Linked DNA regions of Homo sapiens. The protein of the gene in region 1 interacts with the protein of each later gene in a pairwise test. Each region holds a gene or a part of one and is shown in the gene's direction. Other genes may lie near its edges. The genes, in order: PNO1, FRZB, RXRG, ATP5F1C, SGSM2, SUPT5H and PDPK1.

Region 1 (3,500 bases):
TTTACATTTGTTGAATACGTGGTCTCTTCAACTAGACTGTGAATGTGCATGGGACAGTGGAAATAACAGTTTTGAAATCAGACCTGTGTTTAAATCTTACCTTTTTTGCTTTTTAGTACTTTAGTTTCCTCACATACGAAGGTAGTCATATCACTTAACATTCAAAGTTGTTGTGAAGGTTAGAGTTATGGTGTGTAAAGCATGTTATTTATAGTACGTGTTATTTACAGTGGTAGGCTTTTTATGAATAACAGTTATTTCTGCATTTCTCAAATAAACTTTGAGGACAGGTTCAGTGCTTCATTCATTCTTTATTTCCCCAATCAGTGCATGCAGGTAGTTAGGCCTGGAGCTGTTGGTTTAAGAAACATCAGCATATAAATGATAACTAAGAAGATTAAGTCAGGAATCCCAGGGAAGACTGCCTTGAGAGAGAAGAGAAGAGGACATTGGGCATTGAAGGGATGGACAGAAGGTAGAGGTTCTTCAGAATGGGAGAGATTGGGTTGTGCCAGAGGAGTCTTGCTGTTAACCCCAAAATCTGATCATATAGTGCGGTTAGTTATTTGACACTCTTTGGGTGGAACAGCCAAGCTTTGGAGCTGGGAACGTTTTGTTTTGCAAATAAAGTACAGCACTTATCTGACCAGAACCTGTGTCATACAGAATATATTAGGGAAAGGTGGTGGTGAAGGAAATTCTCCAATAATGGGAAAGGACATTTCCAGTATTTTGTTAGGACATTTTCTGTTTGATTCTCAACGGTATTTTGTACCCTTTTTTGTTTTTTAACAGACTTGTAAAGAAACCAAGGATGTTAGTGCTCTGACAAAAGCAGCTGATTTTGTGAAAGCTTTTATTCTCGGCTTTCAGGTGGAGGTGAGTAATTCCATGATATCTAAAATGGGGACTTTAAAAATATTCAATGTGAACATTTCAATGGATTAGGCATTAAAAAAAAAAAAGGCCAGGCACAGTGGCTCACACCTGTAATCTCAGCACTCTGGGAGGCTGAGGCAGGTGGATCACTTGAGGCCAGGAGTTCAAAATAATCCTGGCCAACATGGCGATACTCTCCATCTCTACTAAAAATACAAAAAAATTAGCTGGGTGTGGTAGTGCATGCCTGCAGTCCCAGCTACTTGGGAGGCTGAGGTGGGAGAATCACTTGAACCAGGGAAGCAGAGATTGCAGTGAGCCAAGATCACGCCACTGCACTCCAGCCTGGGCGACAGCGTAAGACTCTGTCTCCAAGGGAAAAAAAAAAGCTTTCTAGCTCTAGAGTTTGTGGATTTTAGTTCCATAGTGCTTTGCACTTTACTCTTTTTCAGGTGTGCAAATGGAAGGGGCTTCACGGTGTTTGTTTTTATATTATAGGATGCACTTGCCCTCATCAGGTTGGATGACCTCTTCCTAGAGTCTTTTGAAATTACAGATGGTGAGTGTGTGTTGGTCTGCGCTCTTGTGTCGCTGACTTTGTATTGTGATGTGACTCTCAGTTTTCTAATAGCATCAATTGAGCTGTATTTTTAGCAACTTATATATATATATATACACTTTGTGTCCTTTAGAGAAATTTAGTTTATGATTAAACTTTATGTGGAATGGGTGGTACACTAGAATGGCTTGCCTCCTGAGATCTTGCTTTTCTTGTTTAGTTAAACCCCTAAAGGGAGACCATCTATCCAGGGCAATAGGAAGAATCGCTGGCAAAGGAGGAAAAACCAAATTCACCATAGAGAATGTGACACGGACAAGGATAGTTTTGGCTGATGTGTAAGTATCTGATCTTGAGAAAATTATTGTCATAATTTATATTTGATCTTTTGTTTTAAGAAAGTCATAACAGTTGTATTTTATGCATAATGTTGCTGCTAAATCTTTGTCAGTGCAGATGCTCCTCATAAATCCATCATAAATTGAAAATATCATAAGTCTAAAATGCATTTAATATGCCTGACTTATGGAACATTATAGCTTAGCATAGCCTATCATAAACATGGTCAGAACACACATTAGCCTGCAGTTGGGCAAAGTCATCCGACACAAATTCTACTTTATGACAGAGTGTTGAATATTGAATACTGTACTAAAAATGAAAAACAGAATGGTTGTATGTGTATTTGAAGTAGAGCATTCTGAATGTGTATCACCTTTGCACCCTTGTAAAGTTGAAAAATCCCAGTTCGAACCGTGTTAAGTTGGGAATCATCTGTATACTTTTGGGTGAATAGATGGTCACCAACTTTGAAAGAGGCTTAAGTTGAGAAAATTTAAGAAATTATATATTCTTTTCTCATTTAACAATGAGGAAATGCTATTAAAAGAAATTATTACAGGTGAAGATTTAAATAATATCTCGGGTTGGGCACAGTGGCTCACGCCTGCAATCCCAGCACTTTGGGAGGCTGAGGCGGGCGGATCACCTAAGGTCAGGAGTTCGAGACCAGTCTGGCCAACATGGTGAAACCCTCTCTCTACTAAAAATACAAAAATTAGCCGGGCATGTGGCATACGCCTTTAGTCCCACCTACTCGGGAGGCTGAGGCAGGAGAATCACTTGAACCTAGGAGGAGGAGGTTGCAGTGAGCCGAGATCATGCCACTGCACTCCAGCCTGGGCGACAGAGTGAGACTCTGTCTCAAATAAATAAATACATACATACATACATACATACATACATACATACATACATACTTACTCAAGGGAATCTATTAAATCACTAGGGGAGAACAAGCAATCACTATTTCAGATGCCCTTGTGAGTCTTTAGAAGTATATATCTACTTTATGTATATACATATATATGTTAAGGCCTTTTATAAAAGGAGGGGAATATCGTACATTAGGCAAAACTAGAGAGCAGTTATATGTGAACATAAACAAGATGAGAGGGGCTTAAAATAAAGGTGCCAGAAGTGAAGCTGGGATTACCCCTGTCTGAGGTTGAAGCTGCCCAGGCTGGGGATCTTACTGGCAGATGGCTCAGAGATTATATAATGCCATGAAGTTGGGAAACTGAACAGTTGACTGAGAGGAGGAGGGTTCTGCCTATGACTAAATTCTGAAATAATTTCATTTAATATCTCAATTTTGCTCCATACTGAAGGACTCTTCATTATATAGAACCTAAATTTTGTACATTCTTTACACTTTAAGGATAACTATACTACTGTGTTGGTGGCCCTCTTTACCTGAAGCCAGGCATATAATTATATTGTTTGATCTTTTATGGATTGAGCCTAGAGTCAGAAATATGGAGCCTTGGGAGAAGCTATTTTGAACTGGAAATGTGCAAATGCACACCACATTTAAAAATATGGCCAAGCATGGTGGCTCACATCTGTAATCCCAGCACTTTGGAAGGCTGAGGCAGGTGGATGGCGTGATCTCAGGAGTCTGAGACTAGCCTGGGCAACATAGTGAAACCCCTTCTCTACAAAAAAATACAAAAATTAGCCGGGTGTGGCGGCCCACACCTGTAGTCCCAGCTACTTGGGA
Region 2 (3,500 bases), about 110 Mb from region 1:
GCAGGACAATTTTATAACATTACAGAGGCCCACTACTTGAGAAAACCTGTTAATGGACCTGATAAAACAGTGTCGACAAGGAATAAAGCATATTTAAGTATTAGGTCTTTTCATATAGTAAAATTAACATAGTTTAAATTCCTCTTGGCAGCAATTGGAACTGCACATGCATATATACACATCCAAAATGGAATTTTAGAGAAAAATTGTATCAGATTGTTGACTCAATCTTTGATTCTCTAAATGGATTTCTCAAAAGCACATGCACACACATGCATAAATACATGCAAATATATACACAGCCACAAATTGGAAAGAGAGCAGGGCTGAGCATTAGGTCAGGTGTGTTGTTTTATGTCACACACTACAGTCTAAGGCAAAAATATCTGGCTGACTTTTCTGTTCCATTCGTTGAATATCAAGTGGATAAGAATTAACTAAAGAGAAGCCTACTTTGGCTTTTTTTGAATGGGGTAGCTATTATGTGTCATATTATTATCAGCTTTTCTTGTCTTTTATCCCAGTCATTCGGGCTAAAGTTAAAGAGATAAAGACTAAGTGCCATGATGTGACTGCAGTAGTGGAGGTGAAGGAGATTCTAAAGTCCTCTCTGGTAAACATTCCACGGGACACTGTCAACCTCTATACCAGCTCTGGCTGCCTCTGCCCTCCACTTAATGTTAATGAGGAATATATCATCATGGGCTATGAAGATGAGGAACGTTCCAGGTAATTCACTCTTTAAGGATACAGAATAACTACTTTGCTTATCCTACTCTCATTAAATTTGTCTCTAGAGATGCTACCCTCGCATTTTTACATTGGGATCTGTCTACCTTCTTGGGGATTACAGATAAGTTTTAGTTGGGTTTCTTGATTTCATATATGGAATGGGTGTATGCGTGTAGTTTATAGGTTTACATTTTTCTTGGGAGAGGGGCCATAACTTCATTTGTTTCTTAAAGGGGTCTGTGACTTACAAATGGTTAATAATTACTGTTCTAAATCTTAGCTGTCCTATTCAAGAATAAACATATAAGTCTTTCTTGTTCAAGTACTGTTTCCTTGTACTTTTCAGTAACAGGTTTTAATTTTTCAAAAATGTTTGCTTCTTTCAAAAATACAGATTACTCTTGGTGGAAGGCTCTATAGCTGAGAAGTGGAAGGATCGACTCGGTAAAAAAGTTAAGGTAAGCCTGTATTTTATGTTTGAAGTAATACACAGAAAACAAAACAAAAGTAGAAAACCAGCCATCTGTCATTGAAATGAAATAGCTGCCTTCAACCATATGAGAAATATTAAAATTTAGTATGCATATATTTATATACTCCAAGAGCTGAATTTGTCTTTAATGTCTATTTTATTTAAGGAATGAGTTCCCTGTATGTGTATCAAAGATCTAACTACAGTTGCCCTAATGTCTCTTCACAAGGAGTCTAGCTGTAGTCCAGTCCTGGTAGGGTGGTTTCATGTTGTCAGGCTCCTTCTAGCTTATCACTCTACCATTTTTAAAGGCATCGCTTTCATACTCATGTTCACCTGGAGGTCACAAGATGGCTGCTCTGCCTCTAGTATCACATGTACATTTCAGGCAGGAAAAAGAGGAGGTAAAAGGGATTTCCAAGAGCCTCATCAAGCAGTTTTTACTTAGCTGCAAAACAGGCTAGAAAATGTAGTCTTTTTAAACCTGGGGATATTGCTTCTTTGAACAAACTGCAGTTTGTGAGAAGGGGAGAATAAATGATGGGAAGGAAAATAAACAATGATGTCCGATGAATAAACAGCAATTCCTATGTACAAAGTGTAGCTACATTCATCTGTATAGAAGAGATCTGAATAAATTAGGTCCTTAGAGCAGTAATGTAGCCTTATTTTTAAGCCAAATAACTCTTAGATTGTGGAATTGATACATTTTTTAAAATCACATAGTACAGTACTGTATTATAGAAGGTTTTGTTTCTTCTTACTGCACTAAGCAAATCTGTTTTAAAGAAAAGAATGGGGTGGGGGAATGCATGGGGGGACAAAAAAATCTCAAAGGATGTGTGGGTGGGTGGGGGGAGTGGGAACTGTACCAAACATAATACATCCTCTTCCTTCTGCAAGTTTGAAGGCTTGGGAAACATTTACATGGTAAGTTAAACACCCCTGGGCGGTTTATCTTATACATCTGGCACTTGACACGGCAGACACGTTTGGGTTTAAGTGACCTACAAAAATGTAGAGGGCATTATTTTGTAAGGAGAAACTACCCTCCAGTAAGTTCTTCTCCCCTTTAGTAGATTTGTCAAAAGGGAGATGCATTTCAAGTTCAGACTTGCGGGCATTCTCTCTGCATCTCTCTTCAATTAGTTTGGTGTTTATTAAAGAAAAAAGTGGCTCTTGTTCAGTATGTTGGAATCTCTTACTGTCTTTAATTTGGTTTTCTGCTTGCTAATGCAGAACTGGAATTTGTCCTAAATTCCTGTACCAGTTGGAAAAGCTTTCAATATCCCTGCTGCGAAGCATGTAACAAGGCTTACTGCTCCTCTTTTGGTACCAAAACAATATCATTGTGTTGTTGACAGGACACATGGCTTGTTTGTCCTGTTTCCCATTGCTTTCTGCAATATTTCCCATTGTTTTCCGCAGGGGACTTGCAGAGTTATTATTGTAAAGTCATTTATATTCTCAGTCTGGATTTAAATATTCTAAAGGAAAGAAACCAATAATTTGAACAATTTTAAATTCATATGCAGATATTGAGGGCTAAAGAGTTTGGGTAGAAAATCTCCTTTGGCCAGAATTATTGAGATTCCTATTTTAGTTTTCCAGTCAATTTGAAGATGTGTAAAAAGAGTTTTATGGAGGATGTTATTTTTTCAATCAGATTTGCTCTTAGCTGAGTTTTGCTCTCAGTGGATGAATCAATAATTTTATAAGAAACATTATTATGTTTTTTTCATGCAAATGGTTGTTTACCTAAGTCTCTTATAGCAGACGATTCAAGATGTTTGGACTTCCTTGGGAAGTTGAGAATCAGACTGTTTTTAAAATATGAAGACAAGATTGTGGAGTAAAGAATACTGAAATGAAGAATTACCTTCAGTAACAGAAAAACAATAACACATTTACTATGTGCTAAGCACTTTATATTTTTATTAATCTTCAGATGTATCTACTTATAAGTAGATTCTATTATCAGTTCCAACATATACATGATGAAAATGAGGTCTAGTAAGTTCAAGAAACTTCACACAGTAAGTGGTGGAGTTAGAATTTGAACTTGGGCCATCTGACCCAAGGATCTGATGGTGCTTGCTCTTTAAAGTGTGGTCCCTGGATCAGCAACATAGGTATCACCTGGGAGCTTGTTAGTAATGAAAATCTTCGGCCCTGTCTCAGACCTGCTAAATGAGAATTTGCAATTTTAACAAATTCCCCATATGATATCCGTGTTTGAAGTTTGGGAAGTACAGCTGTAGTTCGTATTCCCTACCTATCCTCATGTAATATAACT
Region 3 (3,500 bases), on another chromosome or scaffold:
ACCTAGCTTAGGCTCTATTGTAGTTTCTGTTTTATTGAACCTTTCTTCTGTCCCAAAGGCCTTGAATAGAGAGGAAAATCATACCTTTGATTCAGTTTGAGTATTATTGTCCCTTTGGTTAGGCAATATGATTCAAAATTCAGACAAACCATGGGAAGTCAGTAGTTCCTAACCACTAAACCTTTACTTCTATTGGACAATTACGAACATGCATATCCTGCACCACCTTCGTTTGAACTTGCTTGTAAGTGTTCTTATTTTTTTGTGCATGTTCTGACTCCTTGATGACATTGTACATTTTTGAGGAATGAGAGATATACCTTCTGGGTTTCTATTGCTGATTGGATGAGTGGCTCAAATGTATTCAATTTGCTTTCTTTGGTGAACACAAGATACTTAGCCTCAGTTTCTGAGGAATCTTACCAAGAGCACTGGGAGATACAGGGATGGTGATGGGGAGCTGATATTAACTTACAATAAGGGATGTATTCGAGTTAGCATCTTCAGTGTGCTTGCAGAGATGACCATTACACATGTCCTTTCTCATTTTACCGTGAACTCCTTCTGGGTGTGTATTTTTCTTTGCCTTTGTACCCCAGAGCCTGGCACAGTGTCTGGCATTCTGAGTGCCCAGGGAATATCTGTTGATTGACTAATGAATGAATTTGCATTTTTTTGCTTGGCTCTCTTAGAGTGTAAGTCTTTAGCCTGAGGGTCGTAGTTCCTCTTGCAGCACGGCTGAATAGGCAGTCAATAGTTGATAAAAATTTTAAAATACACAGTTGACATTGTCCTGGGTGTGTAATTTGGCATGGATTTCTAGCTTAAATAAAACATATGAGTAAAATGAATAAAAGCAGATAGACTCTAATGGAGATGTGTTGTGATTTTTGGTTTAAGTTTTGGCTTCTAGAAATAATTTTGTTCCTCCTATGGCACTTTTATCCCTCCCTTAAGTTCATCTCACAGATAGGCAGTTTCAAATACTCTGTACTTGGAAACTGTTTCTTGAAATAGAACTTGTTTTTTCTTGAGTAAGCCCTCATTGCCTTAGGCCTTGGGGATTGAATTTACTCTGGCTCTGTGCTTTACAGTATTTTTTTCTCTTGCAGCTAAATGTGGTCAACAGTGTCAGCAGTTCAGAGGACATCAAGCCCTTACCAGGGCTTCCCGGGATTGGAAACATGAACTACCCATCCACCAGCCCCGGATCTCTGGTTAAACACATCTGTGCCATCTGTGGAGACAGATCCTCAGGTACATGCAGAAGCAGACACTCCCTGAAAAGTGCCACAGAGAAGGGGCTGCTCACTGTCTGCCTGGATACTTTGTACTCAATGAAAGGAAAATGGCCCTTTAGGATGGGCTAACTGGGGACCCACCTATACGTTTATGTCACTGGGTTCACAGGCTGCCGTTTTGATGAATTTAAAGGATGGCTTTATTTTTTGAGGATGAGATTTACAGGAAACATTTCAGAAACCCTTCTCTGGAGTCACACTATTACACATGTATCTGAGAGACAGAAGCTGTTGTGATTATCAAGTATTTCTGCTGGGTGTGGTGGCTCACACCTATAATCCCAGTGCTTTGGTGTAGTCCCAGCTACTTGGGAGGCTGAGGTGGGAGGATAGCTTGAGCCTGGGAAGTCAAGCCTGCAGTGAGCCATGATCACGCTACTGTACTCCAGCCTAGGCCACAGAATGAGACTCCATCTCAAAAAAAAAAAAGTATTAAGAATAACCCCTCCCAGATAAGCAATTGTAAAAATAATGTCCTAATGTAGAGGATTTGAACGAACTAGAAAACTGCAAAGAAAAGTAAAAAAATTACCCATAATGTCCCCAAGAAAAATAAACCCTTTAATATTTTAGCGTATTTCTTGCTATAACATTCTAGATTTTCAATATGCTTTTATAGGCAGAAATAAATGTGTTTTCACCAACTTATCTTTGATTCTCTTCTCCTTTTCTCAGTTATTTCTTTCCTTGCTTCTTTCCTCTCCATTCTTCCTGCCCCATATTTCCCTCCCCATCAATTTTGAACACATCCGAATCTCCGATTTGATTATTTGAAGAACAATAATAAGAGGAGGTTATTCTCTTTTCTATAGCTGTCCATGATGGCTAACTGAATATTTCCTTATACTCTTAATGCCACCAAAGCCACTAAAGAATGTCACTCCATTGAAAGTTCCAGGCACCTAGAACTTACCTAGCTGAATGGCTGATGTTTTCTTGCTCTCAAAAAATATTTCCCAAATCATGCAGACTTGGCCATTGCCATAATAGCACACCAGCCACAGCCCGACAGTGTTTTCTCTGCTATGCTTATTCTAGTTGAAAGTCTATGAGGTTCATTTAAATATTGAAAAGCCATGGGAATGACTATGTCACACAGTTGAAAAATTGGTCCCATATTTCTCTAAGACAAATATTTCAGAACTGAGAGCACTAGGTTTTCTGGGCCCAAGATAAAATCCTGTATTTATCATTGCTGTGAGTTCAGCAATGTGAAAAGCCGGCCTGTAGTATGGTCAACCAATGAGGCAAAGGCTGGCTTTTCTTCAGGCAGGCTATCTGTACCCATCATTTCATCTTACAGTGGCTTCCTCTGAACTGTAAACTCCTGAGATGCTGGAAACCTAAGTAAAACAGAATTAGAAAGTCATGTCATTTCTGTAACTCAATGACATCACATATTACATTCAAAGAATCAGACACAAATATGTTTTGAATGATTTGTTTCCTTATATTTTTGAAGTTCTGCAATTTCAATCAATCAAGCATAGTGCCTGGTATTAAGAAGACTTCTACCTAGAAAAAGGATTGTGATTGATTCATGATGCCTGTCTGAGGATGGGCTTGGTGGCTCTCCTGACCTAAATTAGCCACCCCTGCCTGGGGTAATTGAAAACTGCATGTGTGGACAGGTAATAAGGGCAATGAAATATGCAACAAATTAGTCTGGATTAAGCAAAATCACCTTCTTTTTTTTTTTTTTTTTTTTTTTTTTTGAGACGGGATCTCGCTCTGTCACTCAGGCTAGAGTGCAGGGGCATGATCTTGGCTCACTGCAACCTCCGCCTCCAGGGTTCAAGTGATTCCCATACCTCAGCCTCTGGAGTAGCTGAGACCACAGGCATGTGCCACCATGCGCGGCTAATTTTTGTATATATATATTTTAACAGAGACGAGGTTTTACCATGTTGGCCAGGCTGGTCTAAAAGCTCCTGACCTCAAGTGATCTTCCCACCTCAGCCTCCCAAAGTGCTGGGATTACAGGCGTGAGCCACCATGCCCGGCTGCAAAATCAGCTTCTATCAGATCTTTATGTCATAGCTTGATTGTCATATGATGATATAAAGATCAAACAGCAATTAATTTCCTCAACAGTCAATAGCACTTAACAATTCATAACTCAGAATTCTGTTCATAGTTTATGGTAAAGGATAATAAATTTAAATAGGTTTCCTAAGAACTTGGGTCTCAATTATAATT
Region 4 (3,500 bases), on another chromosome or scaffold:
AGCTTTGCATACCTGGAGTAAATCCCACGTAGTGATGGTGTATAATTATTTTTAATACATTGTTGGATTTGATTTGCTAATACACTGTTGAGGATTTTTGCCTCTAACCTATGCTCATGAGAGATATTAGTCACTGTCCACCAAGGTCATTCAATTAGAGAAACCTTAGATCATTCTTACTGCTTTCCTTTCTACTACGAATGTACATGTGAAGAAGTTAAATGCTTGCAAATCTAGTCTCCTATTGCTTTGCCAGCATCTTCATCCAGGTTCTTGAGGTCTCTCCTGAGGCTGTGGCAGCCTACATCCCCATGTCTTCTGTGTTCATCAAAACTCCAACCTCATTTTACGCTTGTCACTGCCATGTGAGATACTTTGCTGAAATACTAAACTGATTTGTGGGCTTATAAACATTCATTTCCCTATTAACCTACAAATAAGATTTAAACCAATTTGCTTTTTTTGATATTTAAAAATATTAATTATTTAAAGTAACAAACCCAACTCATGTGTCCAGTTTCCCCTTCTCCATTTCTCACTCTTTCCTGATCATGAATGCTCTTAAAATGACATTCTGTTCCCGAGAATCCCCTCCTCACATCTCTACTTTGTGCACACATTTCATCATGCTCAGTTCTCCTGTGTAGCTTTGCCTGCAAACACAGGCACTTTGTATGGATTTGAAGGCAGAAAGATCATCTAATATTTTTTAGCATGTCTTCCCCCATTAGGCCAGGAATTCTCTCATATTCATCTTTCACCAACATTTCATTTAAGCCTAATCATTTTGACTTCTGCACATTAGCATTTCAATTTTAAAGACTTGAAAAAAAATACTAAATGTTATGTAAATGTAATTTTTTATGAACCTTGTTTACAAGGTAACAATATGTCAGAGACCATGTCGTGTTTACCAGTGCCTGGAATTTAGAGCATCTTGGTAAATGTTTATTGAGCTAAATTGAAAAAGTTAAGAATCAGTTTATATAAACTACTTTTACACGTGTAGTCATGTTCGACTATATCATTGACTCTGTTACTGGAAGAGGTTGCTGTGAACTAAGGAAATTTTTAGAGTGGCTGGCCTTGATTCGAAGTATAGTTGGGCAGCTTAACAAGGGGAGGGGCTTTTCTGTCATGGAAACAAGATAAGCAAAGATATGGAGGTGGGACTAGAGCATGTGTGAGTCAATAGAGCATGTTGACTTCTGGGAAGGTGGTGGTACAGACAGGCCAAATAAAAGGAGGCCTTCAATACAGGGATTTGCGCCACTACTAAGGGATTTAAATATATGTCTATTCATATACATTCTGAGTCCTGTATTTGATAGATTGTTTCTTTATGGGGTATTCTTTAAATAAATATATATTAACTGAAAGTTTTTCTTGTATAATGGAACTATTTTTCAAAAAACTGAAACATTTTTAAAACTTTTATCCTCAGGATTCAAGTTCGAAATATGGCAACTTTGAAAGATAGTAAGTATGTTGTTTGTCTCAATATGTGAATTGAGAAAAACTAAATTTTGACAAATACAAATACTTTCAAAAATATACTGCTTTAGCCCATTGTGTATTTGATCAAAACTGACCAAATGGATTTCCATTGTATGTTTGGGACATTGGACTTGTTCTGAAAAGACCAGTAAGAAAGGACACCTGAGACAGCTATGTTCTGTTGTTTGTAGAATGATCATGATATAACTAGAAAAAATTATACCAGTGTTGGTGTAGGTGGGTGTATGTGTGGGAAGGGGTAAATCATGTTATATATAAATAATGTTATGGAATATGTGGTTAAGGCAACTTTCAATACCATTTAATGTTTTAAATGTATATTATTGTCTTATGTTGCCATTTGCTTGTCCTAAGTAGTAGCTAGTTTTGCCTTCCTTTTATTAGTACTATTTCTATTTTTTTTTTTTGGAGATGGAGCCTCATTCTATCACCCAGGCTGGAGTGCAGTGGCGCCATCTCGGCTCACTGCAAGCTCCGCCTCCCGGGTTCACGCCGTTCTCCTGCCTCAGCCTCCCGAGTAGCTGGGACTACAGGCGCCCGCCACCACGCTCGGCTAATTTTTTGTATTTTTAGTGGAGACGGGGTTTCACCGTGTTAGCCAAGATGGTCTTGATCTCCTGACCTCGTGATCCGCCCACCTCAGCCTCCCAAAGTGCTGGGATTACAGGCGTGAGCCACCGTGCCCGGCTATTAGTACTAGTTCTAATATTAAGACTGGTTTAGCATCGTGCTGTTTATTGTTTATCTAAGCGCTCATTATTCTGCCTTGCACTTCAGAAAAATATGTCAATAAATTCACAAGGAAGTTATACTGTAATTCCTTTGTCTTAACACAGTACTTCTATTTTTCAGTCACCAGGAGACTAAAGTCCATCAAAAACATCCAGAAAATTACCAAGTCTATGAAAATGGTAGCGGCAGCAAAATATGCCCGAGCTGAGAGAGAGCTGAAACCAGCTCGAATATATGGATTGGGATCTTTAGGTAAGGGAAGAGTGTAATTCACAAATTAGGAAGAACTGTTTCACACAAGGAAGACTACTGATGACTTACATTTAGAGCTTACAGTGATGTCAAGCCTATCTGAGCACTTGCCATGTACTTATTTTTCATCTACATCCACTTGACACGTAATGATAACAACCCGTGTAGGTAGTACAGGTAGGGACTGTTAGAATCCCTGCTTTCCAGTGAGAAAAACTGAAGCACACAGAAGTTAAGTAACTTGCCTAAGATCACATATAAAAGGATGAAGAGCCTCTGTTTGGACCTATGTGGTTTGGTGTCGAGTCTGTGTATTTGTTAGCCATTATACGTGACCATGTTAACTTTTAAAATATTCTGAAATGTTCCCAGTTGTTAAGTATACCATCAGAAGAACTTGGAAACCGTGCGTTAGATGTAAGGGCTTAATTTCATCCTATGACCTTGTAGTGTGGCATTTTAGGACTGCAGCGGGGGCGGGTGAGGGGCAGTGCAGTGGAGAGCTGGCCTTGTGGTCATGGATATGACTCATGATGGTGTTTTGAGAATCCGAACGATGTTGAAGCAGGAAAAGCAGCTGAGAACCTCCATTTTCAAGATACTTAATCACCATTCTTATCTTTTCAAAAGCATGAAGACATTTTTCCTTCAGAAATTTATGTAATCCATCCTTAATTAGTCTTCTTAATGGAAAAGAGATGAGATATGACAGTTTAAAAAGAATTTATATTGTGTTTTTAGATGCTTTTATACTTGTTTGATTATGAATTCATCTTGGAAATAAAGTTGTAAAGAGCTGGAAATGGGAAAGAAGTTTCTATTTTAACTTGTAATTACATTCTTTCTCTTAACTTTTTTATGATCATGCTGTCTTATCCTGAGTTGAGGCTATCTAAAAGAATTTTTAACTTAAGGAAGATTTATGCATATTTGATAGTAAAGAAGATCATGCAGTGAACCCCCTATTTATCTACCAAATCCTCAGTATCTCAACTGAC
Region 5 (3,500 bases), on another chromosome or scaffold:
AATGGGCTGCTGCCTCGGGGACAGCTAGAGCCCCCGCTGTGGACCCAGCAAGGGAAGGTAACTCGGGTGGGAGGCTTTAGGGGAAGGGCTGTGTGTGGGGTTCTCTGCCCGCCTCCCTTCCTTCCCCACGTGGAGTTCTTAGGAGCGGCCTTGTGTGGAACCCTGGATGAGACTCTGCCCTATACAGCCCGACCACCTACCCCTCCTTCCACAGGGGAAAGTGTTCCCCAAGCTACGGAAACGAAGCAGCATTCGCTCCGTGGATATGGAGGAGATGGGCACGGGGCGGGCCACCGACTATGTGTTCCGGATCATCTACCCCGGCCACAGGCACGAGCACAGTGAGTGTCCCGAGCTTCATCCCGGGGGAGGAGAGGAAGACGCTCTGGGAGGCGGGGAGCGCAGCGTCACCCAGGAGGGCAGCAGGCAGGGCCCACTGACCAGGCCAGGTTAACACCAGAGGCTCATCGCCTAGCCTCTCAGCTGGACCTTTTACCCACAGATATTGCCTTTGAAAAGGTGCGTCTCTTCTACCCAGCTCCCTTCCCCACTTCTCCACGCCAGGACTCTTGGCTCAGCAGACCTAGGCGTCACTACACAAGACTCTTAGTTATCCTTTCAGACCCTGTCCAGGGGTAAAACACGTGGAGAAACGAGAAGTAGAAGGTGGGGAACCCTCCATTGCTCTTCACCTCCTGCTCCCCAACCCCTACAAGACAGCCTGGGTATGGGACCAGCGCTACTTTTTTTTTTTTTTTTTTTTTGAGACGACGTCTCGCTCTTTTACCCAGGCTGGAGTTTAATGGCGTGATCTCAGCTCACTGCAACCTCTGCCCCTGGGTTCAAGCGATCCTCCTACCTCAGCCTCCTGAGTAGCTGGGATTACAGGCGCACACCTCCATGCCCGGCTAATTTTTGTATTTTTAGTAGAGATGGGGTTTCACCATATTGGCCAGGCTGGTCTCAAACTCCTGACCTTGTGATCTGCCTGCCTCAGCCTCCCAAAGTGCTAGGGTTACAGGCGTGACCACTGCGCCCGGCCCAGCGCTTCTTTTTGGATGGTGAATATTGTCTGCTGACTCCCCTAGAGCCAGAGCCCTCCTCAAACCAACTACTGATGAGCGTTAGCTGAAGTAGCAGGTTGCATCAGAGGCAGACTCGGGGCTGCCTGGGGGCTTTGGGCACTGGCGGGTAGAAAGGCGGCTTGGCCCTTGTGGGTCCTGCCCCACCCTGGACACACACCCCTGGGCCCAAGGGGGTCTCTCTGTCTATGTGCATCTACCAACACCAAAGTTCCCTTTCTGGTCAGAGTGCTGCTGCTGCCCATAGGCTTCTCTGGGCAGACTTGCTTTTCTTACAGATAAGGTCGGGGAATTTGCCAGCCCAGAGCGTTTATTGCTAACAAGACCACCCGCTCCCTAAATTTCCAACTTGTGCCAAAAAGTTGTCAACAAGTTGTCTCTGTATTAGGGACCGGACTGCCCAGACGGCACACTCAGCCACAGCACAGATAGCTCCACCAGGCTCAGAGGGCACACGGCACAGGGATGTCCCCCCTTCCCAGATGTACCTGACAAAGAGACGCATCTTTGGCCAGAATGTATTTACACACTTGGCACTTAGTCTCAGGCTGTTGCTTGGTTTAGCTTCTCCAGTCTCTGCCTCCCCTCTTCGATCTTTGCCATTTCCCAGTCCTGGTCACTTCACTTCCAGGACCACCTCGCCAAGGGCAAGCCAGGGCACCCAGAGGCTGAAACTCCACCAAGCGACTCCAGCTCCTTGAGGACAGCTCTGGGAAAACCCTTTCCTTTTCCTGGGAGGGAAGAAGGTGGAATTTATAGTCTGAAAAAGGGGATTTGGAGTAATCTTCAGATTTGGTCCAGCCTGAGAGGAGCTAGAGAACGATCAGGACCCATCTGCCAGCTGTCATGCGCAGCCTCTGTGAGGGCCGATGACCTCCTGGGCTGCCAGCCCATCCCAGACAGTCCCGGTCTTTCACATCCTCCCACCTCTGTTCTCTCTCTTCTGTTCTTCCTAGAGAGGCTGCCTCCGAAGAGTGAGGTTCTGCAGCTGCCCCAGCCCCTCGCCTCCTTCCACACTCTCCCAGGAAAATCATCCAAAGAGCTTTCTGGTCCCCTCCCTTCCCCTCTTCTGTGCCCTGCAGATTCACGATGACCCCGGCCTCCATTCCACTCCCCTTAAGGAGGGAGTCCGTCCTGCCCAGGGATGAGGGCCTCATGCCTCTGCCTCTCGCTGTTCTCTTTGAGCAGTCACTATTAACTACCACCACCTAGCGGCCAGCCGCGCGGCCTCGGTGGACGATGATGAGGAAGAGGAGGATAAACTGCACGCGATGCTCTCAATGATCTGCTCGCGGAACCTCACAGCTCCCAATCCGATGAAAGGTTCTTATCCCTCCCTCTCCCTGACCCACCTCATCCCCACCCTCCCTCCCGGGCCCGCCTGCCACCCACCACAGGGGTTCGAACGGCAGTGTTGGCATTAGGGGACTTGCACCCAGGGCAGTTCCCTTCCATCGGGGGCAGATCAGGGAGGGCAGAAGGAGGCCAGACAGGTGCTGGCAAGAAAAGGGGCTGGCCCAGGGCAGGTGGCTCCAGGCTGTGAGGAGGAAGAGGATTTGCTAATAGGAAGGTCTGATTATCTGATTGCCTCCTGGGCACCCTGAATGGATCTCTGAGCCCATTCCTACTCCGGGGGTCAGGCTGGCAAATGCCAGACAGAGGTCTCTTCCTTTCTCTCTGCTGATTGGGAAGACCAGCCTCTGGGCCTGGTGCTTCTGACTCCTGACTTAACAGAAACAGGATGGAGGTACCGGGTCCTTCCTGGGGCAGGGGCAGCAGCTGTGGGTCAGGCGAGGGGTTGAGGGCTGCCATGCGAAGGGCCCCAGGGCTCAGTCTTCCCAGGAGGCCTGAGGGCCCCAGCCGGCAGGGCCTGGTACTTTGGCATGAAATCTAGAAATAGCTGCAGCATGGTGTCCAGGAAGGGGCCAGGCTCAGGGCCTGGCAACATGAACTCCCGCCCCAGATATGCCCCTGGTTCACTGTGTGGTTTTGAGCAAGTTTCTCACTATCCCGGAGCTCCGTCTCTTCACCTGCGCCAGGGATATAAGACAGATGTGTTCCTGCCCTCATGAGTCTCAGGGTCCACGAATGGAGAGGTCACCTTTGTTGGAGGTGATAGCGTAGTGCCCTCAGCCTCTCAGGGTTCCTCTGCCTACCACCCATCTTTCCTAGCACAGAGCTGGCTTGGTAGAGAGGGAGCCCCCCTCTTTTCAGCAAGCAATCAGCCAGGCGACCTGTGAGGGCTGGGATGGGTGCTCCAGAAAGGGGTGGGTAGGAAGAGGCTGAGGCCAGTTCTCCCAGAGACGAGGGGAGCTTCCCCATTCCCACCCATTCCCATGCTACAAAATCAATTGCTTCTCCCTTTCCCCGCCCCTGCAGAGGATGTCCTCAGAATATGTCACACTCCCCTTAGGCTTC
Region 6 (3,500 bases), on another chromosome or scaffold:
ATGTAATGGTGCAGTCTTGGCCCACTGCAACCACTGCCTCCCAGGCTCAACTGATTCTCCTGTCTCAATCTCCCAAGTAGCTGGGATTACAGGCACCCGACACCACGCCTGGCTAATTTTTGTGTTTTTAGTAGAGATAGGGTTTCAGCATGTTGGCCAGGCTGGTCTCGAACTCCTGACCTCAGGTGATCGGCCCACCTCGGCCTCCCAAAGTGTTGGGATTACAGGCGTGAGCCACTGTGCCCAGCCTTAATTTTCTTTTTTTTTTTTTTTTTTGAGACAGAGTCTCGCACCGTTGCCCAGGCTGGAGTGCAATGATGCGATCTCGGCTCACCGCAACCTGCACCTCCCGGGTTCAAGCGATTCTCCTGCCTCAGCCTCCCAAGTAGCTGGGATTACAGGCACCCACCACCATGCCCAGCTAATTTTTTTTTTTTTTTTTTTTTTGGTATTTTTAGTAGAGATGGGGTTTCACCATGTTGGCCAGGCTGACCTTGAACTCCTGACCTCAGATGATCCACCCCTCAGCCTCCCAAAGTGCTGGGATTACAGGCATGAACCCACTGCGCCTGGCCAACCGGCCTTAATTTTTGTATTTTTAGTAGAGGCAAGGTTTCACCATGTTGGCCAGGCTGGTATTGAACTCCCGACCTCAAGTGATCCTCCTGCCTCGGCCTCCCAAAGTGCTGGGATTACAGGCATGAGCCACCGCTCCTGGCCTTTTTTTTCTTTTAGTTGGTATTTACAGCTATACATTTACTTCTAAGCATGGCTTTTTTCAAATCTCATAAGTTTTGGTATCTAGGAGTGTGTTGCCATGTATTTGTGAATTTCCTAAGTATCTTTCTGTTGGTTTTTAACTTCATTACATATGGATGGAGAATATACTTTATATGATTTTAGTTCTTTTATGTTTACTGAGACGTGTTTTATGGCCTAACCTGTGGTTTATTCTGGAAAGTTTAATATGCCCTTGAGAAGAAAGTGCATTCTGCTGTTGTTAGATGGAGTGTTCTTTTTTCCCATTTCCGCTTAATAAGTGGAAAGTGAAGACGAAATGTTCTGTCTATAGCTGGCTATTAGGTTTAGGTGGCTTACAGTGTTGCTCAAGTGTTCTCTTTCCTTGTTGATCTTGGGTCTAGCTCTATCCATGATTGAAAGCAGGGTATTGCAGTCAGTGATTGTTACTGTTGAGTTGTCAGTTTCTTCCTTCATTTTCATTAGTTTCTGCTTCATGTATTTTGAGGCTCTGTTAGTTTCATATACATTTGTAATTCTATCTTCCTGATGGATTGACCTTTTTATTGTTACAAAATGTTTTTTGTTGTCTCTGGTAGCAATTTTTGTCTTAAAGTATATTTTGTCTGATGTAAGCACTCCTTTCTTGGTTCTTCTTCTAGTTGCTTTTTTTTTTTTTTTGAGACGGAGTTTTGCTCTTATTGCCCAGACTGGAGTGCAATGGTGCGATCTCAGCTTACCGCAACCTCCACCTCCCGGGTTCAAGCGACTCTTCTGCCTCAGCCTCCCGTGTAGCTGGGATGACAGGCATGTGCCACCACACCCGGCTAATCTTGGATATTTTTAGTAGAGACAGGGTTTCTCCGTGTTGGTCAGGCTGGTCTTGAACTCTTGACCCCAAGTGATCCACCCGCCTCGGCCTCCCAAAGTGCTGGGATTACAAGCATGAGCCACCGTGCCCGGCTCTAGTTGCTTTTTTACACAGAACATATGTTGGATAGCTTTCTATATTAGTACATACAGGTTAATCTAATTTTTATTTTATTTTTTATTTTTAAGAGACAGGGTTTCACTCTGTTGCCCAGGCTGGAGTGCAGTGGTGCGATCTCAGCTCACTGCAGCCTCAACCTCCCGGGCTCAAGCAGTCCTCCCTGCTCAGCCTCCTGAGTAGCTGGGACTACAGGCATGTGCCATCACACCCAGCTAGTTTTTGTATTCTTTAACTGCAACATTGTATTTCATGGTACATTAAGCCATAAGTTAACTAGTTACTGTTTCTGGATATTTTTAAAATTTTTAGTCTGGTTTGTTTGCTGTGATAAATAATTCTGCAGGGAACACCTTTGTGTCCATGTCATTGTGCCAGTGTGTTTCTGTGGAATAAATTCCTAGAAGAGGGACTGCTGATGAGTGGCAGTCATTTCTGTTATTAGCCGTTGTGTCTCACTGTTTCCTCCTTCCACCGGCTCACCCTGCAGCCCCTGCAGATCAAGTCAGTAGTGGCACCAGAGCATGTGAAGGGCTACATCTACGTGGAGGCCTACAAGCAGACCCACGTGAAGCAGGCCATTGAGGGGGTGGGCAACCTGCGGCTTGGCTACTGGAACCAGCAGATGGTGCCCATCAAGGAGATGACAGACGTGCTCAAAGTGGTGAAGGAGGTGGCCAACCTGAAACCAAAGTCCTGGGTCCGCCTCAAGCGGGGCATCTACAAGGATGACATTGCTCAGGTGCCCGGGGCGGGGTGGCATGGGGGTCAGGGTCCCTCCATTCTGTTCTCCCTTCCTTTCCTTTTGTCCTTCCCACCCTCTTTGTGCTGCAGAGAATAGAATCCCACTCAGATGAGTTGAAGCAGAGCCTGGGTTTTGTGAGCACACAGGAAACGGTTGGCTGTCTTCTGTGCACATTCCCAGGCGTGTTGAGTAAAGGTCTGAAGGATCGGAGGGCGTGAGGCATGTGGAGCTCTTGGGGAGGAGTGTTGTAGGCAGCAGGAGTGGCCTGTGAGATAGGATGGCACAGTCACTGGCTACAGCAGGGATGGCGTGAGATGAGTTAGGGAGCTCACGAGGGCCTGCGGCCCATTGGAGAGCTTTGGTGTTTACTGGCGTAGGATGGGAGGGCTGTAAGGGACACAGGCAGACTTCAATGTTAATAAGATTTCTCTGGTGACTGTGTTGAGACTAGACCACTGGTTCTCAAGCCAGGGTGATGTTTCCCCAGGGGACATTTGGTAACGTCTGGAGACATTTTTGGTTATGTCAGCTGGGGAGGGGGTTGACGATTATGGCATCTAGCAGGTTAAAGCCAGAAATGCTAGACACACACATCCTCCAATGCACAGGATGGCTGCCCACAACAAAAAATTACCTGGCCCAAAAAGTCAATAGTGCCAAGGCTGAGAAACCCGGGAATAGCCTGGAGGGGGCCATGGGCAAGAGCGTGGAGACCAGGGAGGAGGCTGCTGCTGTAGCACATCCCACCCAGATGGCAGTGCTGGTGGGATAGGACCAAGACCCTAATACACGTTGAGTGTCTCTAACCTGAATTCTTGAGACCACAGGTGTTTTTCAGATTTCAGATTTTTTCAGCTTTTGGAATATTTGCATTATACTTACCGGTTGAGCATCCCAAATCTGAAAATCCAAGAGTGAGCATTTCCTTCGAGCATCATGTTGGTGCTCACAGGGTTTCCTATTTTTGAGCATTTTGGGTTTTTGGATTTGGAATGCTGAGACTGCAGTGGAGGAGGGGAAGAGGTCAGG
Region 7 (3,500 bases), on another chromosome or scaffold:
CCATGGAGGAGAATCAGGGCTGCCCACCCTGTCGCCTTGCGCCTTGCTGTGTGCGAGCTCCCAAGGCCTGACAGCGGCAGTGCGGGAGGGGCTGGGGTTTTAGGACCTTAGAGGCAAGTGAAGGTGCGGTTCTCACTTTCCCTTCTTCTCTGCAGTATGACAATCTCCTGAGCCAGTTTGGCTGCATGCAGGTGTCTTCGTCCTCCTCCTCACACTCCCTGTCAGCCTCCGACACGGGCCTGCCCCAGAGGTCAGGCAGCAACATAGAGCAGTACATTCACGATCTGGACTCGAACTCCTTTGAACTGGACTTACAGTTTTCCGAAGATGAGAAGAGGTTGTTGTTGGAGAAGCAGGCTGGCGGAAACCCTTGGTAAGAACTTATGGACATAAGCAATGCTTTTTGCAGAATTGCAGCGTGAACACGTGGGGGCTTATGGTGGGTGCCTTTGCCTTGTCACTGCCTCCCTCAGCAGCCTTGGACGCTTGGCCAAGGAGCACATCGTAAGTGCACAGTTGGAAACAGGTGCTTAGGAGGCAGCCGGCCCAGGGGCTGAGTGGGTTGTGACCGCCGGGCGCTCCCCTCCTCTGCCGGGCATTTGGACCTGCTGGTTGTGGCCATGGAGTCACTGTGGTATGGACAGACGCGGCCTGGACCTGGCCACTTGGGAGTTTATGAGGTTTGCTGTTGTAGCCCCTCTTTTCCACATAGCTTTCCCCACTTGTCCATTTATGTCTTCTAAGGTGAGTGCCAGGGGCAGTGTGTGATGGAGGGCGTGCGTGTTTTCAGGGCTGGGGATCTGTCGCGGGGGCGCCAGGAATCTGCCTTTCCCAATGCTCTTGCCTGCCTGAGAGTGTTTTGATGCTCCAAAAACAAACTTGTGAATTTCTGTTTTATTCCTATTGAGGCAGATGTCTCCTGTGTTCATGACCATTTGTGTTTCTTTTTTGAGGTACTTTGTGTCCTTTGACTATTCTTTCTTGTATATTTTGCATCTTTTTTTTTGAGACAGAGTGTTGCTCTGTCACCCAGGCTGGAATGCAGTGGCGCGATCTCAGCTCACTGCAACCTCTGCCTCCTGGGTTCAAGCAATTCTCCTGCCTCAACCTCTCAAGTAGCCGGAATTACAGGCACCTGCCACCACACCTGGTTAATTTTTGTATTTTTTGATAGAGACAGGCTTTCCCTGTGTTGGCCAGGCTGGTGCCTCTTTTTAACATGGATTTTTAAAAGCCACGTGTATGGAGACTATTCCTTGTTGTATGTTTTGCAAACATTCTTCAGTTTCTCTCCAGTCTCGATACTGTGTTTTTGTATGGAAGCTGCAAATTCTTACCAAGTCCATCCTGTCCCTATTTATATTTTATGTTTTCCATTTTAATCTGGTAAGACGGGCTTCCCCCCTAATATTTTTACCTGCTTTTCCCTTTTGTGTGGGCAGAGAGGAGCCCAAGGGGGTGGGGAGAGGGCCTTGCAGGAAGGCATGCTGGAGTGGAAGCACAAGACGAGGGGGAGTTGAGGGCCTGGCTAGGCAGGGACAGGACACATGTGACTTGAGAGACTTGTGGGGAGGAATGAGAGGAAGGAGCTGAGCTCTGGGCCGCCCCGGCAGGTGGGGAAGACCACGGCTCTATGCGGTTCGCCACACCTGTCTCTAGAAAACCTGTGCAGAGATGCTGGCAGGCAGCAACAGTCTACAGCTAGGGGCTCTGAATCACACCTAGTGTGATTGCTAGAGATGTTAATGTGTACTGAGCAGGAGAGGAGGGCTCTTGATGGGAGCAATCTGAGCCGTGCTGTGCTGCGCAGCTCCAAGCAGCAAGGAGGCGTGTGCCTGGCTATGCAAGGAGCTTCCCGGGCTCGTGTGTGCTGGGGTCCCCACGAAGGGCTGCTGTGGCCACTCCAAGTACTTGGCCAGGAGCGCTCTCTCTGCAGATCCCAGCTGAGAGGTGCTGTCTGCAGGTGTGTGTGTGTTTCAGCTCCTTTGGTGACTCCCAGAAGAGGCCCCTCTGCCTGGGGCTGTTCTTAGAGGGCCTTGGGGTCCGTCTGGGTACCTTAGCCTGGTGATGGCGGCAAGTCAGGATACACATTCTCCTGCCTGCTTCCTTTGTCTTCAGGTTTCTCTTTCCCCTTCCCACTTCCTTCAGATTTTAGGTCCTTTTGGGAAGCTGATGACTCCTGAGATCTTGCAGGATCTGTCTGGCTGCTGGGAGGTCTGTCCAGCACCTGCTCTTTACAGTAGTGGTTTGCATTCTCAGTGTGTGGCCACCAAATCCCCGAGGTCAGGGCAGTTTTTTTTGTAATACTAAGATGTTATTTGCCTTTTTGCTGTCATTCTCTGTGCGTGTATGGTGAGTTTTTCAGTGGTCACATGCTGTAGAATGGAATCTGCGTGCTTTTGGTCTTTTCTAAGGTCATAGGTTTTTGGTATCAATATGTTTTGTTTTTTAAATGAGAGAGAGTCTTGCTCTGTCGCCCAGGCTGGAGTGCAGTGGCGTGATCTCTGCTCACACAACCTCCGCCTCCTGGGTTAAAGTGATTCTCCTGTCTCAGCCTCCTGAGTAGCTGGGATTACAGGCACATGCCACCACGTCCAGCTAATTTTTGTATTTTTAGTAGAGAAGGGGTTTCACCATGTTGGCCAGTCTGGTTTCGAACTCCTGACCTCGAGTGATCTGCCCACCTCGGCTTCTCAAAGTGCTGGGATTTCAGGTGTGAGCCACCGCGCCAGCCAATGTATGCATTTTTTGAGATTAATATTCAATATTTCTACTGAGCTCTTACTATCTCTTCATTTATACCTGCTATAGCCTCTGTAATTTTATCATCCACTGAATCATTATTTTGAAATCCTGAAGTTTTCCTTGTGCCTACATGAGAATACGGTAAGTTAAGTTCAGGATCACACCTGTAATCCCAGCACTTTGGAGGCCAAGGTGGGTGGATCACTTGAGCCAGGAATTCGAGAGCAGCCTGGGCAAGAAACTGAAACCCTGTCTCTACAAAAAATACAAAAATCAACCAGGCATGGTGCTGCACACCTGTAGTCCTAGCTGCTTGGGGAGGTTGAGGTAGGAGGATTACCTGAGCCTTGGAAGTTGAAGCTGCAGTGAGCAGAGAGCTTGCCACTGCCCCCCAGCCTGGGTGACAGAGTGAGACCCTGTCTCAAAATTGGAAAAAAAAAAAAAAAAAAGGTAAAAGGAATTTTTAAATTTACATGGAATAGTTTACACTTAAAAGGAACATTTCAAAAATATGTGTGATGAGCTCTTTAAAATCCAATGTTGTTTGTAACAGCTTTTCAGACAATAAATTAAAGAGTCACTGAAGCTCTTAGAAGCTGCATTGTAGAGGCTGGAGAGGCCACACGGTAGCTGAGAGACAAAGCCTCCGGCTGCAGCACAGCCTCAGGCTTGGTCATCCTGTGCTGCCACAGTCCACAATGCAGTCGAAACTTGCTGGATTCAAGATACGACTGCAGGCACGAAGAGGGAGTTGA

Evidence for each region.
Region 2: the proteins of PNO1 (region 1) and FRZB interact in a two-hybrid assay, tested with the Homo sapiens proteins (one large-scale study listed by BioGRID and IntAct).
Region 3: the proteins of PNO1 (region 1) and RXRG interact in a two-hybrid assay, tested with the Homo sapiens proteins (one large-scale study listed by IntAct).
Region 4: the proteins of PNO1 (region 1) and ATP5F1C interact in a two-hybrid assay, tested with the Homo sapiens proteins (one large-scale study listed by BioGRID and IntAct).
Region 5: the proteins of PNO1 (region 1) and SGSM2 interact in a two-hybrid assay, tested with the Homo sapiens proteins (one large-scale study listed by BioGRID and IntAct).
Region 6: the proteins of PNO1 (region 1) and SUPT5H interact in a two-hybrid assay, tested with the Homo sapiens proteins (one large-scale study listed by IntAct).
Region 7: the proteins of PNO1 (region 1) and PDPK1 interact in a two-hybrid assay, tested with the Homo sapiens proteins (one large-scale study listed by BioGRID and IntAct).

Annotation. Positions count from the first base shown.
Region 1 is NC_000002.12:68,160,888-68,164,387, forward strand, and holds part of PNO1 (RNA-binding protein PNO1), read left to right. Parts: intron 1-795; coding exon 796-879; intron 880-1,377; coding exon 1,378-1,438; intron 1,439-1,658; coding exon 1,659-1,776; intron 1,777-3,500. UniProt on the Homo sapiens protein: Part of the small subunit (SSU) processome, first precursor of the small eukaryotic ribosomal subunit.
Region 2 is NC_000002.12:182,835,638-182,839,137, reverse strand, and holds part of FRZB (secreted frizzled-related protein 3 precursor), read left to right. Parts: intron 1-524; coding exon 525-729; intron 730-1,126; coding exon 1,127-1,190; intron 1,191-3,500. UniProt on the Homo sapiens protein: Soluble frizzled-related proteins (sFRPS) function as modulators of Wnt signaling through direct interaction with Wnts. They have a role in regulating cell growth and differentiation in specific cell types.
Region 3 is NC_000001.11:165,417,627-165,421,126, reverse strand, and holds part of RXRG (retinoic acid receptor RXR-gamma), read left to right. Parts: intron 1-1,112; coding exon 1,113-1,257; intron 1,258-3,500. UniProt on the Homo sapiens protein: Receptor for retinoic acid. Retinoic acid receptors bind as heterodimers to their target response elements in response to their ligands, all-trans or 9-cis retinoic acid, and regulate gene expression in various biological processes.
Region 4 is NC_000010.11:7,794,677-7,798,176, forward strand, and holds part of ATP5F1C (ATP synthase F(1) complex subunit gamma, mitochondrial isoform L (liver) precursor), read left to right. Parts: intron 1-1,444; coding exon 1,445-1,479; intron 1,480-2,370; coding exon 2,371-2,502; intron 2,503-3,500.
Region 5 is NC_000017.11:2,365,001-2,368,500, forward strand, and holds part of SGSM2 (small G protein signaling modulator 2), read left to right. Parts: coding exon 1-57; intron 58-214; coding exon 215-341; intron 342-502; coding exon of another isoform or gene 503-639; exon of another isoform or gene 640-666; intron 667-1,374; exon of another isoform or gene 1,375-1,813; intron 1,814-2,038; coding exon of another isoform or gene 2,039-2,060; exon of another isoform or gene 2,061-2,156; intron 2,157-2,164; coding exon of another isoform or gene 2,165-2,230; exon of another isoform or gene 2,231-2,264; intron 2,265-2,270; coding exon 2,271-2,405; intron 2,406-3,500.
Region 6 is NC_000019.10:39,462,582-39,466,081, forward strand, and holds part of SUPT5H (transcription elongation factor SPT5), read left to right. Parts: intron 1-2,216; coding exon 2,217-2,468; intron 2,469-3,500. UniProt on the Homo sapiens protein: Component of the DRB sensitivity-inducing factor complex (DSIF complex), which regulates mRNA processing and transcription elongation by RNA polymerase II.
Region 7 is NC_000016.10:2,586,521-2,590,020, forward strand, and holds part of PDPK1 (3-phosphoinositide-dependent protein kinase 1), read left to right. Parts: intron 1-155; coding exon 156-373; intron 374-3,500. UniProt on the Homo sapiens protein: Serine/threonine kinase which acts as a master kinase, phosphorylating and activating a subgroup of the AGC family of protein kinases.